2 separate regions of the Homo sapiens genome follow, and region 1 is linked to region 2. Evidence: fine-mapped expression QTL. Tissue or cell type: hypothalamus. Region 2 holds a variant in brackets; the other region holds the start of a gene. All regions are shown on one strand. Distances are from middle to middle.

Region 1 (8,627 bases), 1.0 Mb before region 2:
CCAACGTGAGCCCCCCTCCTCCAAGTCAGCGATGACTTGCCTCCCATGCCCAGCCAAGGACTTGGAGTTGCGGCGAGTTCCAGGTAAAATGGGAAATAAGATTTGTTTCTCATTGCTGTTTTCAGGATTTGTTAAAATAGTACTAAGAGATTAGCAGATAGTAGTTTTCATGGTAAATTCTCTATTCTGTGCCAATCTCCTCCTTTTTTGTTTTTAATTATAAAAGTAGTATACGCATGTTACCAAAACCACAGAAGAAATGGAGTGAAAAGCAGAAGCTCCTTTCCCACTCCCACCTTCCTCAAACCCACTCCATTCTCCACAGCCAACTAATGTTTGCATTTTACTTTATTTTTATTTTTCTAGCAAGAGAATCTTACTATGTTGCCCAGGCTGGTCTCAGTGCTAGATTACAGGTATGAGCCACCATGCTCAGTCCTATTGTTTGCATTTTCACAGAGAAATAATGACAAAACCTTTTAAGACCTAAAGAGAAGGAAAACAGCCATGTGCGGTGACTCATGCCCATAACCCCAGTACTTTGGGAGGCTGAGGTGGGTAGGTCGCTTGACCCCAGGAATTCAAGACCAGCCTGGCCAACATGACAAAATCCCATCTCTACAAAAAATACAAAAAAATTAGCCAGGTGTGGTGGTGAGTGCCTGTAGTCCCAGCTACTTGGGAGGGTGAGGCAGGAGGATCACCTGAGCCCTGGGGTCGAGGCTGTGGTGAGCTATGATTGCGCCACTACCCTCCAGCCTGGGACCCTGTCTCAAAAAAATAAAAATAAAAAAAAAGAGAAGGAAAACTAGAGGCACTGAGAATAATAAATTAACATTTGTGGAATGAACACTCATCCTAGATATTATGATGGTATTTAATATATATTTTTAAAAATTCAGTTTGTTCTGATTGGGAAATACTGGAGGGGCTTTGGAGCACAGATCATCCTCAGTCCCCTCACATATGTGCAAGTACTTTGAAGAGGGCCCTGGAAACCTTTCTTCTTTCCTGCACTTCCTAGACTTTCTCCTTTAGGCTGAAAGGGGGCTGCTTCGGCAACAAAGAGCATTTCATAAGCGGAGCATTTCTTAAGTAGACACCCCGCCTTTTTTTTTTTAAATTGAAATTTGAATGTGGTGAGTCTGAATTAGGGCCCACGGCATGATTAATTACAGCAACCATCTTAACCTGCCCGGGGGCTGGGCCTGAAAGAAATGAGGCCAGGCTGAAGAGAAATACAGCTAAGGATAGTTAGGAATGCTAACAAAACTTGGTTAACTGGCCCTGTTCTTCTCTCAGCTGCTAATGCACAGTTGGAAGATTTAAGGAATCAGTTCCTGTTTCACTGGTTCTGGCCGACCCCAGAATCAACTCCCTTGATTGGAAATAAACAGGATCTTCCTTTTTGTCCCCAGGAATGTGATGGAGGAAGGACTCTAAGGCAAAGGGCCTCTTCTGCCAAAGCAGAATAATAATAACAATGATGACAATAGGAATAAAATATTGCCCTCTTCATCAAGGGCGATAAGAGAATGTCCAGTTGTATGAGTTGAACCTTGTTGCTCTCTATGTGCCCGTCAGAGCTCCAGAATTCACAGGCTCAGGGTGGTCAGCATAGGTTGGATTTGAACTTTCTGTTTTGTGGTCCTCCTGAGTGCACTTGTACAAGCTGGGCTACGTGCTTCAATTTGGGGTTCAGAAAACAGGATCACAATGACAGCACTTCTTGCTGACACAGTGCTGTGAATGTCTGTGCACAAGTCTGAGCGTCTCTCCTGAACAGTATTAGTCAGGGATGTCCCTAGTGCCTAGCACAAGGCCAGAAGCTGGGGCACAGCGGCTGTGAAGTAAGATGGGCAGGATAGGAAGCTAGCAGCTCACTTTCAATGAGTCATGGAGTGGGGTGAGAGGACCGTGACTGCATGAGCCCATATTTTACCTCAGTGCTCCTGGGGCTGGGGCAGAAAGAGCTGTGTTCAGGACGAAGCCCCTACAGGACTCGTCTGCTATGTTCACCCTTGTAAAGTCTTTGTATTCCGGAGGAATTATTTGTCTAACTCCTAGGTCAGTCTTATCTCAGTGTTTTTTTTGTTTTGTTTTGTTTTTTGCTCTCTCCCCTCCCCGAGGGAGGGCTACATTATGGAGGAACTTTACTATTTCTGTTTAATCTTCCTTTTTGTTGGCAACAGTGATAAGGAGGTAGAAGGATGTTCCCCCTCCCGGCTTCCAATCTTCCTTGGTCCAGGGACACAGATTCTTTTTCTTTTCCTTTTACCTTTCTCCCTTCCCCCCTTCCTCCTTCTGTTCCTTCTATTCTCCTTTCCCCTCCTCCTTCTCCTTGTTCTTCTATTCTGAAGACTAACTCCAAAAGCTGAGGAGTAAGGACAGGTGAATCCAGTTTGTTTCTGCTGGTGTCCTCCCCCAACAACATTCAGGAAATTACTTCTGCTACGGTCTGAACATTTGTGTCCCTCCCAAATTCATATGTTGAAATCATAACCTCCAAGGTCTTAGGTGGAGCCTTGTGGGGGGTGATTAGATCATTGGCGTGGAGCCCTCAGGAATGGGATTAGTGCTGTTACAAATGAGGCCCACAGGAGCTAGCTTGTCCCTCCTACCATTTGAGGACACAGGAAGAAGGCCGTTGTCTGGGAACCAGAAAATGGGCCCTCACCACACACCAAATCGTGGGTGCCATGATCTTCAGCTTCCCAGCCTCCAGAACTGTGAAAAATAAATTTCTATTGTTTATAAGCACCCAGTTTATGGCATTTTGTTACAGCAGTCCTAGTAGACTAAGACAACTACTTTGCTCAAGAACTTTCAATAGCTCCCTATTGTTATCAGTTTACAGTTCCAACACTAAAGCCCCCCTCCAACAGAGCTATCCTGATCTTAATTTTTGTGATTTCTGCACATGATCCTTCCCCACACCATCAACTGGCCTTCTTGATGTGTTCACCAAGCAGAGACAGCAGTAGGTGGGGAAGCATTTCCAGCTGAAACTAACAGCTTCTGTGAAGCCAGAGGACGGGAGAGCTGGGACAGGTGGCTGAAGAGGTAAGAATTGATGGGATTATAAGAGATCTTCAGGGACATACTAAAGATTCTGGACTGTATTAATTATTACTTGATTAGGAGCCATTGAAAGATTTTAGGTAGGATCTAATTGGGCTTTTAAAATGGTTGCCCTGGGGCTATGTGGAGGAGGCAACAGTAGTGAGAGGGTGTGGAAAGGGGGAAAGATGCCAGCCCACTTTGGTGACATTGGTAGTGTCTGCAGAACAGCCTATGCTCAGATGACCCAGCTGTGTATGGAGGCAGGGGGATGGATGAGATGACCTTCAGTAACCCCCTTCTGGTGGGGGAAGGGAGAGCCGTTCTCCAATCTCATCTTTGAGTCAGCTTGGGCCTGTTTCCACAAGTCCTCTTCCATCTGTCAAAGCCCTTCTAGGAAAGCTGAGCTGAAAGGCAGCTGCGGAGGGCAGAGTGCTGGCTGGGTCCGGGCTCACTTCCTCCTTTTCAGGCAGGAAAAGCAGACAAAAGTGCACAATGGACCAGAGAGGGCGCGTCCAGCAGAGAAGGAGGGAGAAGGCGGGGGAGCTGGTCCTTGGGGCAACAGGCCTGGGAAGGTTCCCTTTGATCCCCTTATCTCTGGAGGGTAAGCTTTCTTTTTTGGCCTGCAGGACCTTTTGTTGCAGCATTTCCTGGAATCCCCCAAAGTAAACACAGTCAAGACTGCATTCTTACTGCTCTACTCTTCTGAGCCTGCTCCTCCCAGCTGAGAGAGGGGCAGGAAGGTCAACCCTCCGAGATCAACACTGCTCATCAAAATGCTGACAAGGGCCCACCTAACAATGTGTTAGGACCGGGGCTGTCTGAGAGACGATGCCAGTTAAGGCTGGGCTGGCTCTTAGCTGCAGCAAGAGTGGAAGATGACAACCAGTTGATATCTGGTAGCTCTGTGCATCCTGGACTTGGAGGCAAGAATAGGCAAGGAGAAAATCTGGATCCTTCCAGAGAATTTCAGAGAAAAACAGGCATGGGTTTAGGGAGTTACCTGCCCACTGGGCCTACTTTCATCCAGACAGGAGGCCCGTGGCCAGCTCTTCCAGGTGGGGATGGGGTGGGTGGGGAACAGCGAATAACCCCACTGATAACTTCAAGCCTCACAAATCTCTTGCCCTCTGAGGAGCAGGAGAAGAGAAGCCTGAAATTTGGGGTCACCAGCCAATTATCCTTCCCCAGGGTTTATTATTGTCAACTCTTAGAGGCCACAGGGAAAGGGTGGGGTGGTCTTCACCAAGCCAGCGTTTTATTTATAGGGAAATTCAACCCCCCCAATCCCCCTCCCCTCCTACAAATGGAAACTGGGCCGCACCAGGAGTCCTTCAACCTTCTAACTTTCCCTCTCCCCAGCTTTGATGAGGAGGGGCGTTCAGCCAAGAGGCCCCTCCTCGCTGCAGTTGAGGTCCATTATGTAACCCAGCTTGCGAAATGCAGGAAAGGCCCGGCTGGCTACAGCCCGGCTAACGGCTCAGAAAGGGCGCCCCTGATAGGAATACCCCCACCTCAGGCGTGGCCCAGACAAACGCGATAAAGCTGTGGGCATGGAGTTTTGGGCATTGGGACATCCGGGGGAGGGAGGGGCGCGGGCAGTCGGGGTCAGGCCGCCGTCGGGGCGCGGGGCGCTGCGGGCCACCTGTTGCAGCGGGCGGCCAGGGCTCACCTGCGCGGAGACCGGGCCGAGGGGCGGCGGCGGCGAGCGGCGGAGCTGAGGTCCCCGAGGCTAGCCCGCGCCTCCGGCTTCCGCCGGGTCAGCTGACTGCCCAGTGCGGAACTGTGCGCCCGCCGCGCTCCCCTGCCGCGCTCCCCGCTGCTGCCGCCGCGCCCCCGCGCTCCGTCCCGCGCGCCCGCAGCGTCCTGGCCGCCATGGCCGGGCTCGTGGTGCGTGGAACTCAAGTAAGTCCCGGCCAGCCCCGCCTCCGCCCGGGGCGCAGTCCGCGTGGGGAGGGACAGCGGGGCACAGAGGCTCCCCAGGGCCTAGACACCCCTGTCCCCGCCTCAGGGGGCTGCGTCTGCAGGGGGTGAGCTTCAGGTGCTCAGGCTCGCCCTAGTGGGGCTAGGACAGACCTCGTTTCGGGCCTGGCACACCCCCTTGATGTGCGGGAAGAACACCCGCAAGGTCTCCCGTTCTCCCCACTTCCTTCTGCCCTTAGCGCCTCACTGAGCAGGCCCAGCGGACACAGTGCTGACGGCCCCCGCTGCTTTTGGGGGCCCACAGAAAATGTTCCAATTTCATAATCTGAATTTTAAAAACTTTTGGTCAAAGAATCCATTTTGATAAATCACATTGATATAGTCATCTTTATACCAATGCAGTTGTAATATACAAATTTACTTATTTGTAAATGGAGGAAGGGGTTTATGAAGGCAAAAGTGTCTAGGGTACCCAAAGTCCCAGCACATCCCTGGAGATGAGGGTGCTGGTGGGCCCTGCGCTGAATGGGCTACGCCATAGCCAAAGGCTGATGGAAGGCCACCGACCTCCAGTTCTCTTTCCACACTCGATTTCTTGAACAGGAGTCTGTGATGAATGGCAACACGCCAGTTTCAATCCTGGGTGCCAGACACCCAGTCTCACATGCTTTGAGCTCTGTAGTGAAGCCTCAGGTGTTCATTGTTGGAGGGATGAACCCAGCCACTCTGGGACCAGGTGTCTTTCTTACCTGCTGGAAAAGCCAGTTCTCTGTCTTTAACCTCTTCTCTGCTCTGATGAAGCCAGAGCCCTCTTACTTCCCACCTTTCCCTGCACACCCTGGAGAAATAGTTCTGAGTTTTTGAAGCTCTCCTCTTGGATTGCCTAAGGCAGGTAGTGTCAGGCACAATTGGATTTTGAGATTACTTTGGGCTGAAGGGAATGATTCCTCCTTAGAGGAGATTCTAGGGGTTTTTACAGCTCCTACAGATGCAGTGAGGGCCAACTGTGCAGCCCATTAAACTAGCCGCTGCCTGTTTTCTTTTTTTCCAGAGTCCTGTCGTTTCATCAGGTACACATGTTTATTGAGTGCCTACTGTATGCCAGGCACCATGCCAGGTGTTGTTGGAAATTAGCCTTTCCTTTGTCTCTGTGCACCCCCCATTTAACAGTTTTGTTGCTCAGGAATGCTGGCTCTGTCCCTTGACCCACAGCCTGGGAGGAGAGAGCTGGAGAAAGACCAGAGTTCAGAAGTGAGTTAACAGCCTGCGGAGAGGCTAAAAATGACGGGTCTTGTTCAGCCATCGGGGAAAGGGGCTTTTTTTTTCTGGGAGTTAATTTACTGCCTGGAGGGAGGGGCTGGACAAGAGGGTCTTTTCCTTCTCTTGGAGTATCTACCTAAGAAGGAGGGTTCCCTGCCCCCCAGACCCTAGGTCTCTCTGCGTTTCAGATTTGGTGTTCTCCCGGTGTACCTTGCTACAAGTTCATGGGGCTGAGCACTTTCCTGTGCTTCCTTTCCCTTTGCTCTTCCTCCGTTTCCTAGATTCGATTTTTCCTGCAGCCCCTGTTCTTAGCCTACTCCAAACAGCCCAAGGGCATTCATGGAAGTGTGGGTGAGGCATTTTAGGCCCTTGGGGACTGTTTTATTAGACCGAGTTGCCTGGGGAGGAGCTAAGAAGGTAGGCTGGGAAAATGCCCCTGGAGTCTTAGTGCCCCATTTCCTAAACTGCCCAGGTTAGTGGATTTGAGTGTCTGGCCCCGGAGGTGGTTTTTTTGTTTGTTTGTTTGTTTGTTTGTTTTTTCTACATTCTGCTCCCAGCGATTTCTAATGGCGGCCGCTTTAAGAGGTAGCACCTTGGATGTGGGTAGCATGGAACAGTACTTGTCAGACTTTAGTAGATCCTTCTTAAAGGGAGGAAAATAAAACCCGCAAAACTTCCCATGAGCCCATAGTGTGAATATAGTTTTTATTACAATGTTACTCAAATATAAAAACATGAAGCCAGAGACAACTTTCCCATATCCAGAGACCTATAAATCCCAAATAAAGGGATGGTTTAAGTGCAAAGAAAAAAAAACCCTATGCAATTAAACAATTTAATGAGATGAATGCTGCGTGGCTTGAAGTTAGGTCACTGCTTTTAATGCCACTATGGGTTGACTGCTGTGGAGCTGGTTTTTAGGAGCTCCACAGGCCTATGATGCCACATGCCTGGGGATGTTGCAGTCTTCCTATTGCTTTTCTCTGCAAAAGGCTTTTCATTTGCCATGGGTCTGACTTCATTTGGCTTCTCTTGGCTTGAATGCATCATTTATGTTCAGCATTAAGTCATTTCTCTTTCCTCTAGCTTATGACAACGTAATACGATCGTAGACACAAATACAAACTTGGAATTTGGGCACTGAAATCTTGCGCCCAAGAGATATTGGAATAATGAATCCCTTCTGTGGGGAGAGTGGTCTGATTCAACAGCTGTTTAACAGAGTGGCCACTGGGTGCCAAGGACAGTGTTGTGCACTTTTAATATGTTAGCTCATCGCATTCCTGTAAGTACAATAGGGACGATAATATGCATGGGGCTGTTTCATGAGGATTGAATAGATAACAAGCACATGATAGGCATTTAATAAATGTTGGTTTTTACATTATTCTTAACACCTTTGGAGGAGTTAGTGTTAGCCCAGTTGCAGAAGAGGAAACAGACTCGAAGATGGTGACTCATCCGCGACAACACAGCTAGCAGTGGCAGTACCGGGAATCAGATTTGTACCTATGGTTGTTTCTACTCCGACAGCTTCCAGTACCACACATACACTTATTTATTTATGAATGAATGATAAGGTCTTGCTCTGTTGCCCAGGCTGACATGCAGTAGCGCAATCATAGCTCACTGCAGCCTTGAACTCCTGAGCTCAGGCAGTCTTCCTGCCTCAGCCTCCTGAGTAGCTGGGAATACAGGTGTGCACCACTGTGCCCAGCTCAGTATTACAAATTTAAAATCGAGGATCTCCCACCCCTGGCTAGGGGTAGGCATCAAAAAATAATCTCCTCAACATCTGACTGTTGACAAACTCATCATCTCCAGAAATGCCCTGGGAGCCAGAGAGTCCCAACGCAAAGTGAAACCTGCAGTCTTCTGCAGTTTGGTTATTTTCTGCAGCTTCGGCTTGGAGGGATTGGGTGTGTACATAGGTGGGGACCCCTTCCAGACACTCTCCTTTCCCTTTCTAGTTTCTTCTCCGTAGGGGTCTTTAACTTGTTATATTTTCATTTGCCTGGTAATGGTGTCCCTTCCTGTTATTCCACACAGGGTGGAGGTCTTAGGGTACAAATTATAGAAAATAGAGAAATTATAAGTTTGAATCTTTGTTCCTCAATGCAGTCTAAGTCAAGGTAATTGACTAAATGCAATGGTGTTCTGGATATGCTCTTGCTTCTGTGCCATTTAAGATCTATTAATCTCTGTATCCCGTCTCCCTTTTGCTGAAGAAGCAAACTATTTTTGGTTTGGCTCTTCTGGCCTTGAATCTTACATTAGGTGGTCCTGTGCTCTAAGAAGCTTCCTGACATCCTGAGAGGTAATGTCTTCCCTCAGAAGCACTTCTTAAGTCTTTTTTCTAGTTTCAAGCATTGCTTGCAATGTCT
Region 2 (8,627 bases):
TAATAATTATTATTTTATTTATTTATTTATTTTTCATATATATTTTTTATTATACTTTAAGTTCTAGGGTACATGTGCACAATGTTCAAGTTTGTTACATATGTATACATGTGTCATGTTGGTGTGCTGCACCCATTAACTTGTCATTTACATTAGGTGTATCTCCTAATGCTATCCCTTCCCCCTCCCTCCACCCCACAACGGGCGCTGGTGTGTGATGTTCCCCTTCCTGTGTCCAAGTGTTCTCATTGTTCAGTTCCCACCTATGAGTGAGAACATGCAGTGTTTGGTTTTTTGTCCTTGTGATATTTTGCTGAGAATGATGGTTTCCAGCTTCATCCATGTCCCTACAAAGGACATGAACTCATCATTTTTATGGCTGCATAGTATTCCATGGTGTATATGTGCCACGTTTTCTTAATCCAGTCTATCATTGTTGGACATTTGGGTTGGTTCCAAGTCTTTGCTATTGTGAGTAGTGCCGCAAATAAACATACGTGTGCATGTGTCTTTATAGCAGCATGATTTATATTCCTTTGGGTATATAGCCAGTAATGGGATGGCTGGGTCAAATGGTATTTCTAGTTCTAGATCCCTGCAGAATCACCACACTGACTTCCACAATGGTTGAACTAGTTTTCAGTCCCATCAACAGTTTAAAGTGTTCCTATTTCTCCACATCCTCTCCAGCACCTGTTGTTTCCTGACTTTTTAATGATCGCTATTCTAACTGGTGTGAGATGATATCTCATTGTGGTTTTGATTTGCATTTCTCTGATGGCCAGTGATGATGAGCATTTTTTCATGTGTCTGTTGGCTGCATAAATGTCTTCTTTTGAGAAGTGTCTGTTCATATCCTTCACCCACTTTTTGATGGAGTTGTTTGTTTTTTTCTTGTAAATTTGTTGGAGTTCATTGTAGATTCTGGATATTAGCCCTTTGTCAGATGAGTAGATTGCAAAAATTTTCTCCCATTCTGTAGGTTGCCTGTTCACTCTGATGGTAGTTTGTTTTGCTGTGCAGAAGCTCTTGAGTTTAATTAGATCCCATTTGTCAATTTTGGCTTTTGTTGCCATTGCTTTTGGTGTTTTAGACATGAAGTCCTTGGCCATACCTATGTCCTGAATGGTATTACCTGGGTTTTCTTCTAGGGTTTTTATGGTTTTAGGTCTAACATTTAAGTCTTTAATCCATCTTGAATTAATTTTTGCATAAGGTGTAAGGAAGGGATCTAGTTTCAGCTTTCTACATATGGCTAGCCAGTTTTCCCAGGACCATTTGTTAAATAGGGAATCCTTTCCCCATTTCTTGTTTTTTGTCAGGTTTGTCAAAGATCAGAGAGTTGTAGATGTGTGGTATTATTTCTGAGGGCTGTGTTCTGTTCCATTGGTCTGTGTCTCTGTTTTGGTACCAGTACCATGCTGTTTTGGTTACTGTAGCCTTGTAGTATAGTTTGAAGTCAGGTAGCCTGATGCCTCCTGCTTTGTTCTTTTGGCTTAGGATTGACTTGGCGATGCGGACTCTTTTTTGGTTCCATATGAACTTTAAAGTAGTTTTTTCCAATTCTGTGAAGAAAGTCATTGGTAGCTTGATGGGGATGGCATTGAATTTATAAATTACCTTGGGCAGTATGGCCATTTTCACAATTTTATTCTTCCTATCCATGAGCATGGAATATTCTTCCATTTGTTTGTATCCTCTTTTATTTCATTGAGCAGTGGTTTGTAGTTCTCCTTGAAGAGGTCCTTCACATCCCTTGTAAGTTGGATTCCTAGGTATTTTATTCTCTTTGAAGCAATTGTGAATGGGAGTTCACTCATGATTTGGCTCTCTGTTTGTCTGTTATTGGTGTATAAGAATGCTTGTGATTTTTGCACATTGATTTTGTATCTTGAGACTTTGCTGAAGTTGCTTATCAGCTTAATGAGATTTTGGGCTGAGACGATGGGGTTTTCTAGATATACAATGATGTCATCTGCAAACAGGGACAATTAGACTTCCTCTTTTCCTAATTGAATGCCCTTTATTTCCTTCTCCTGCCTGATTGCCCTGGCCAGAACCTCCAACACTATGTTGAATAGGAGTGGTGAGAGAGGGCATCCCTGTCTTGTGCCCGTTTTCAAAGGGAATGCTTCCAGTTTTTGCCCATTCAGTATGATATTGGCTGTGGGTTTGTCATAAATAGCTCTTATTATTTTGAGATAAGTCCCATCAATACCTAATTTATTGAGAGTTTTTAGTATGAAGGACTGTTGAATTTTGTCAAAGGCCTTTTCTGCATCTATTGAGATAATCATGTGGTGTTTGTCTTTGGTTCTGTTTATATGCTGGATTATGTCTATTGATTTGCATATGTTGAACCAGCCTTGCATCCCAGGGATGAAGCCCAGTTGATCATGGTGGATACGCTTTTTGATGTGCTCCTGGATTCGGTTTGCCAGTATTTTATTGAGGATTTTTGCATCAATGTTCATCAGGGATATTGGTCTAAAATTCTCTTTTTTTTTGTTGTGTCTCTGCCAGGCTTTGGACAACCTTAATTTCTTATTATGCTCACTACTTCTTGTGGCTGAGCCAAAACACTCATGCTACAAGACTAAATCAGTTTCTGGAGTTTAGAAGTCTTTAGTGCTTTCTTCTACTTTATTGAATTAGTTCTTCATTGAGAGAGAGAGAGCATATCTAGGAGGAGCCAGCCTGTCTTGGATTGTAGTGATATTTTGAATGGTTCCTTTACTTGTTTTTGAAAGCTCATAAACCCCTGTTAAGTAGACTAGGTGTCCAGACCTTCATCCTTGATGCTGGCTCAGGCCCATCTGTGGAGATTGACATGGCTTTAACTTCATGATGAAGTTAATTTCATCTTTTAACTTCATGATGAAGTTAATTTCATCATTTAACTTCATGAGCTATAGACCCATCATAGATCCATCGATCCAGTTTTCCTTCCAGGCCCCACATTAACTGTGCCAAGACCAGAAAACACAGAGACTTGGCCTAGACTTTTTTCTTGGATACTCCTTTCTTGTGAGATTGCCACTGGAGCTCAGCATCTTGGCCTCTCCCTATGAGATACAGTGGGGGTGAATGAGGAGGGTAAACCGGCTGAGGATGCAAAAAAGAGAATGACTCACTAGCTGTGCATCTTAGCAAGGCATGGAACTTCTAGCACGTGGCTGCTGGCAAAAGCTCAAATAACTGTATATCTGAACAAAGAAACCATATTCAGGACTGCTAAATCCCAGCAACTTAAGGCTCTGCCAGGCAAAGCAAGAGAAAGAAAGGGGAAGGATTTGAGAAGGGGTTAATTGAGGGTGAGGTAAAGAAGTTTTACTCTGTTATCATGTTGACCAATTTGTATCCATTTGCCTTTCTCCTTTGAGTCATTGTCATTTCAGTTGCTGAGAAGTGGACTGAAACCTTGCTGTTAGATGAGGAAATAACCCTGCCAATTATACACACACACACACACAAACACACACACACACACATTCCCCACACTGGCATGCCACTGCCTTTTTCAAGATAGGAGGAATCCCTTAACTAGTTATTTCATCATGCATGAAAAACCCCAAAGTAAAAATGTTGGAGAATTAACAAAAAAAAAAAAGTTACAGCCGCCAAGCCAATGTTGCATTATTTTCTCAAAAACTCATGATGTCATGGACTTAGCTCACCTTTAGTGCAGCCATGCGAATAATGTGTACTGAGCTTTCTATCATGTACCATTATAATTAGCTCTGTCAGGTCTTAGCCCTGCAACCCTCATGCAGATAATATGATAATATGTCTTCATAACCAAGTGACCTTACATGCACAATATTTCTCCCCTTATGAAGATTGCATGTCAATAAAGTAATTGAGTCTCAGAGGCTGCAGCGAGGGAAGATTTAGGTGATTGGACGTGGAGAGCAGTGATGTATGATGATTATTATTCCTCTTGTCAGGGAGGCGCGTACAAGCGAGGATGGCCAGAAGATGACAGGGATGACGGGTTGCGTTTCATTAAAAAAAAAATTGCTGTTAATCACCACTCTATTCTTTTCAAAGTCACTGAGGAAAGAAACTCTTTTTTCATTGTAGCTACAATGAACATCCCCAAATGGGAGCACATCGTAAGATTTTTAGCCTCAGTCCCCTTTCACAGTGTCTTTCTTCTGTTGCAAAGAGGCTAAATTAAGATTTTAATTAATAGATCAGCC[A/G]TGGGGGCCTGGGCAGGGGCCACCCAGCTTCCCTGCTGTAGGGCTCCTTGGGTTTCCAAATGCAGAAAAGGCGCCTGCCGAGATGGAATTGCACTTCCTCTCCTCTCTGCGTTGAGAGAAGTGTGCTGGTGAGCTCTATAAAAAGAAAGCAAATGTGAGAGAACCAGATCCGAGACAACTATTTTTACTTGAATTAATTTGTTTGGACAGTTTTAACACTTGGAACATTTATATTTCCATACTTTATAAAAGCAAACATGCTGTTTCTCTAGCTGTAAATTTATCTTATGATATCATAACAGCTGGAAACTTGTAGCCTGGTAGGATTTTGTTTCATATTTAAACAGCTTGAGAAATATGTCGGAAACAAGGTATATTTTCCCCCATCTCTGTGTGTTTTCTCCTCTCGTATTAGGCTACCTTAGGAGTGTCGGCAGTATCATTCAGAAGATACTGAGGCTCCAGGATTTTTATTAGCCTGGCATTGTTAATTGCTGCTCCCTTGCAAACCTCTTCCTATAAATGCTGAGAACACACTGGAGCCCCTTCCAGAGGAGTTCAAGAATCTTTTCAAGGGGAAAGAAAGCTAACAGTAAAAGCATCTTTTGTTGGCAGAGGGGCTTCTGAAGTCTTTAAATCTTTGTTCATAAGTAATTGACTAAGATCTAACAGCCTTGAAGGAAAGGAGCTGATGGTATCACTTTTTAGTCATAGTATTAACCTTGTGATTTATGGTACAAAATTAGCCACTGCATCCTCTCATTACGGGTGCTGAGTGATTTCTCCAGGCAGGCAGGAGGGAATTGAGAGCTGGATTTTTGTCTCCTGGAGCTCTACTGTTTCCTCCTAGGGAACCACAGTGAGTGTTTTTAGGGATAGGAATATTGTTTTCCTTCCATTTTCTCTGCTCTGTAAAAGAAAATATCAAATGTAAGTAAATAAATAACCTAAGGGAGCTAGAATGTTCAGAGGAAATGTTAACCCAAGGGTGGTCCAAGGGTGGCAGTATAGAATATAGAGTTTCAGATAGGGTCAGTGAGTGATTTCAACCTCCTAATTGTCCCACAACCCCCTCCTCTGCCTCCACAAATTCAAGGCCAAAGCTTTCTGAGTATTTTTTCCATTGAATAGTATCTGGAGTAGAGATTATATCCATTTCTCCATCTGGATAGTTTTTTCCTAATGAATTAAAAACCACCTAATAGACTTCAGGGACACTAGGAAGACTCTGATGATTTCAAGAATTCATAATCCTTATTCTATGCTGACATTGAAATTTTACAAGTGGAGCTTTATCTCTACAGTTCAAGGCTTTGGTTTCTGGTGAAAAATATGTCTCTCCCTGGGAGGAAGAAGCAGATTAACCTATTATCAGTTATTTACATCTGGGTGGAAAAAAAAGATCTAAATATTTTCTGAATGCTTTAAGTAGAGAACAAGCAAGATAATAACTAGGTGCTTGGGGAGTGAATTTACGTGTTTGAGGCGGGCTGATGCAGAGAGGAGCATGGATGCGAACGGGCCCATAACTAGGAGCTTTTTGCTGTTGAAAAGCAACTTTGCTGACTGCACAGTTTGTGTGAGCCCTCCTACAGCTCAGTTCTCTCCTCACATCAGCCTGCTTCCCTGGGTGACGACAGTGTTAAAAGCACAGACTTCAGAGTTAGACTGCATAAGTTCAAATCACTTCTCTACTACTTGCAAATTCTGGGGCTTGAGAAAGTCACTAGTCTCCTGTATGTAGCTCAGTTTTCTCATTTTTAAAAGTGACAATAATGGTGCCTTGCTCTAGGGCAGTTATAAATGTAACATCCTCATAATAACCAATAATAAGAGTATAATCAGTGCTGCCTGTTGTTATTATCCCAGTGGATGATAACTTAGACCTATGCTGGATTCGTTGTCATTGGTGATGGTGGTGGTGCTGTGGATGATAAAGAGATGATAGATCCTGATATGGTTTGGTTGTGTCCCCACCTAATTCTCAACTTGAATTCCCACATGTTGTGGGAGGAACCTGGTGGGAGGTAATTGAATAATGGGGGTGGTCTCCCGTGCTGTTCACATGATAGCGAATAAGTTTCACAAGATTTTATGGCTTTAAAAAACGGGAATTTCCCTGTACAAGCTCCCTTCTCTTGTCTGCTGCCATGTGAGACATGCCTTTCACCTTCTGCCATGATTGTGAGGCCTCCCCAGCCACGTGAAACTGTAAGTCCAATAAACCTCTTTATTTTGTAAATTGTCCAGTCTCAGGTATGTCTTTATCAGCAGTGTGAAAATGGACTAATACAGATCCTAAATATAGCAAGTGTACTGGTGCTTAATTTCCCTTTGTAAAACTTGAGTCCTGGCTGATTATCTCCAAACTTTCCCTTGACTTCTTTCCCTGTATTTTAGTTCCAGTGTGTATAAAAGTGAAAGCTGAACTTTCTGAAATGTCGTGGGTGTGGGCCTGGGGGTGCTGCTGGTGTGGTGCTCCTTTACTGGCTCTGTCTTGCCATAGATCTCCACAGAGCCCTGAGCTGTAGGGCTGTTGATGACAAAAAGAGAACATAAAATGCTAGAGGAAAGATCATTCTAACACGGTGCAAATCCCCAAACCTTCCCTACAATTTCTCTGTCTCCCATGCCTCACCCAAAGCAACATTTGGCCTAGAAGGGAACTTTGAGATGATCTGGCCCCATGCCTTTCACACTGAGCTATGCGGAATTCTAGCATTCCAATGAGACTTGTCAGAGGTGCAGGGGGAACAAGTGGTGACCCATCAGGGTGGAGCTAACAGGGCTCCCAAAGCTGGCTTCCAAATCCATTTTTATCCATTCAATACACTGGGGTCTAAAGGAAAATATCATTTAATGAAAAAATTTTATTGTCTAATGTAACAACAGAAGGTTCAAGCATCAGTGATCTAGTCCATCTTGTTCATTTTACAGATGAGGCGCAGAATAGGCTTATCACTGGCTCATGTCACTGCCAGTTAGTCATGGACCCTAGCCTTGAAATTGCTCTTTGGAAACCCCACTGTTTCCAGTATTGTGTCTGCATAGTGGCTTCCACGGGCCGAGGGCTCACCTCATTGCCCCCTCCCCACATGCCCTAGCTGGTCTCTTGAATGACTATAGCACTAGCATGTGGTGGCCATGTGTGCCACCAGTGCCACCACCCTAATGGCAGCTGTGATTATCAGCACAGAGGCCCAGGAAGAAGGACAGAATGGACTGCTGGCGGATGAATTGGGAGGGGAGGGAATGGGCAGAAGTGGAGCCACATTGAACTCAGAAGTATAAGTGAAGAACCCACTATAATGTTGCATGGGGCCTTGTTCAGCAAAGGAAGATTGCTGTCTCCCAGTCCAGTGCAGCTGAATTAAGTGATCTGGCCAGGGTGGCAGTGGGGCCTGTGTTCCTTCTCACAGGTATCTGTGTTAATGGGCACCCCTGCCTGGAGCCGCCAGTGTAGCTGCTTGGATTTCTTATTCTTTTATTTCCATCCTGTCTCCTTGTTTTCTGTCACTGTGTCATGTCAAATCATTGTCAGGTGGCAGACACCACACCCCCCAAGTACAAAGGTATCAGGTTTCAGGACACAGGCTGAAATGAATATAATAATGGGAGCCAGAACGAGGCACAGACCACTTAGCAGGCAAGGAAACAGCTAATAAGTGTTGTTAGTGGTTTCCATGGGGAGGACCTGGCGTGCATTTCTTGGACAGGCAGGTGGAGCACGGCCTGTCCTGGGGTCCAGCTACAGACAGGCTTGTGCGATTAGTATTGATGCCTGTCACTTTGTGGCTGCCAAGCTGTTGATTCTGTGAAAGACCAAAGACTCTGGTTATCTGGTAATCAACACTGCTCTCAGGAACGCACTGGGGAAACAGAAATAGGCTTTCCTGAGTATTGACTGAAGCCATGGATCATGTTGCTGGTTTGTGTTTTCCTCTAGCCCCAGCCCTGAGATTGCTCCAGCCTGTTCTTCACCTGCAGTGCCAGGTAACCATTCTTATTTGTCATGGGATCAAATTCTAACCCTCTTAGAGTGAGCCCATCCAAATGCTCTGACTCAGCTGAACACTGATGTAACCAGGGTGACTTGGGCGACAGCATAGGAAATAAGAATGCATTTGCATGTCAAGGTGGAAATTCAGTCTCTCACCTTTGACAAATTCCCACACCTTTGACAAATTCCCAAATCCAAATGCATGGTTGACGCTTAGGCTTCTTCTTATCCCACTCCACCTCACCTTTGCTTTTTTAAAGGCTCTTTAAAAATATAAACATTAAAATCCAAAAGGGTTAGTAACAGAAGAATAAAAAATATAATTCGTTTTCTCTCCTAATTCATTTTCTTGGTAACTGTTGCCTTCTCATATCCTCTTCTTTCTTTCTTTTTTGTATTCAAGAACTTTAATATCTTATTTTTCC

Alleles and levels. Alleles are on the strand shown, and positions count from the first base shown. SD is a standard deviation of normalised expression in the study named.
For the expression in hypothalamus of the gene that starts at base 4,835 in region 1, A is the high allele of the variant in region 2 and G is the other (moderate effect, 0.40 SD a copy in GTEx).

Evidence for each region. PIP is the estimated chance that this variant, and not a neighbour inherited with it, causes the effect.
Region 1: LRMDA starts here. The variant in region 2 is fine-mapped to the expression of LRMDA in hypothalamus (GTEx, PIP 0.92).

Annotation. Positions count from the first base shown.
Region 1 is chr10:75,426,790-75,435,416 of GRCh38, forward strand. LRMDA (leucine rich melanocyte differentiation associated) reads left to right here and starts at 4,835. Exons shown (of 7, transcript NM_001305581.2): 1 at 4,835-4,965. The coding sequence starts at 4,936. LOC107984293 (a long non-coding RNA gene) reads right to left here and starts at 4,821. Exons shown (of 2, transcript XR_001747703.2): 1 at 4,733-4,821; 2 at 1-3,521. RefSeq lists enhancers at 4,643-5,143, 5,144-5,644 and a silencer at 4,785-4,884.
Region 2 is chr10:76,425,568-76,434,194 of GRCh38, forward strand. All of the region lies in intron 6 of LRMDA (leucine rich melanocyte differentiation associated), which reads left to right. Among named protein-coding and RNA genes, the nearest start is that of KCNMA1-AS1, 460 kb to the right of the region's middle. RefSeq lists an enhancer at 7,546-8,243. The variant A/G (reference allele first, on the strand shown) is at 4,203.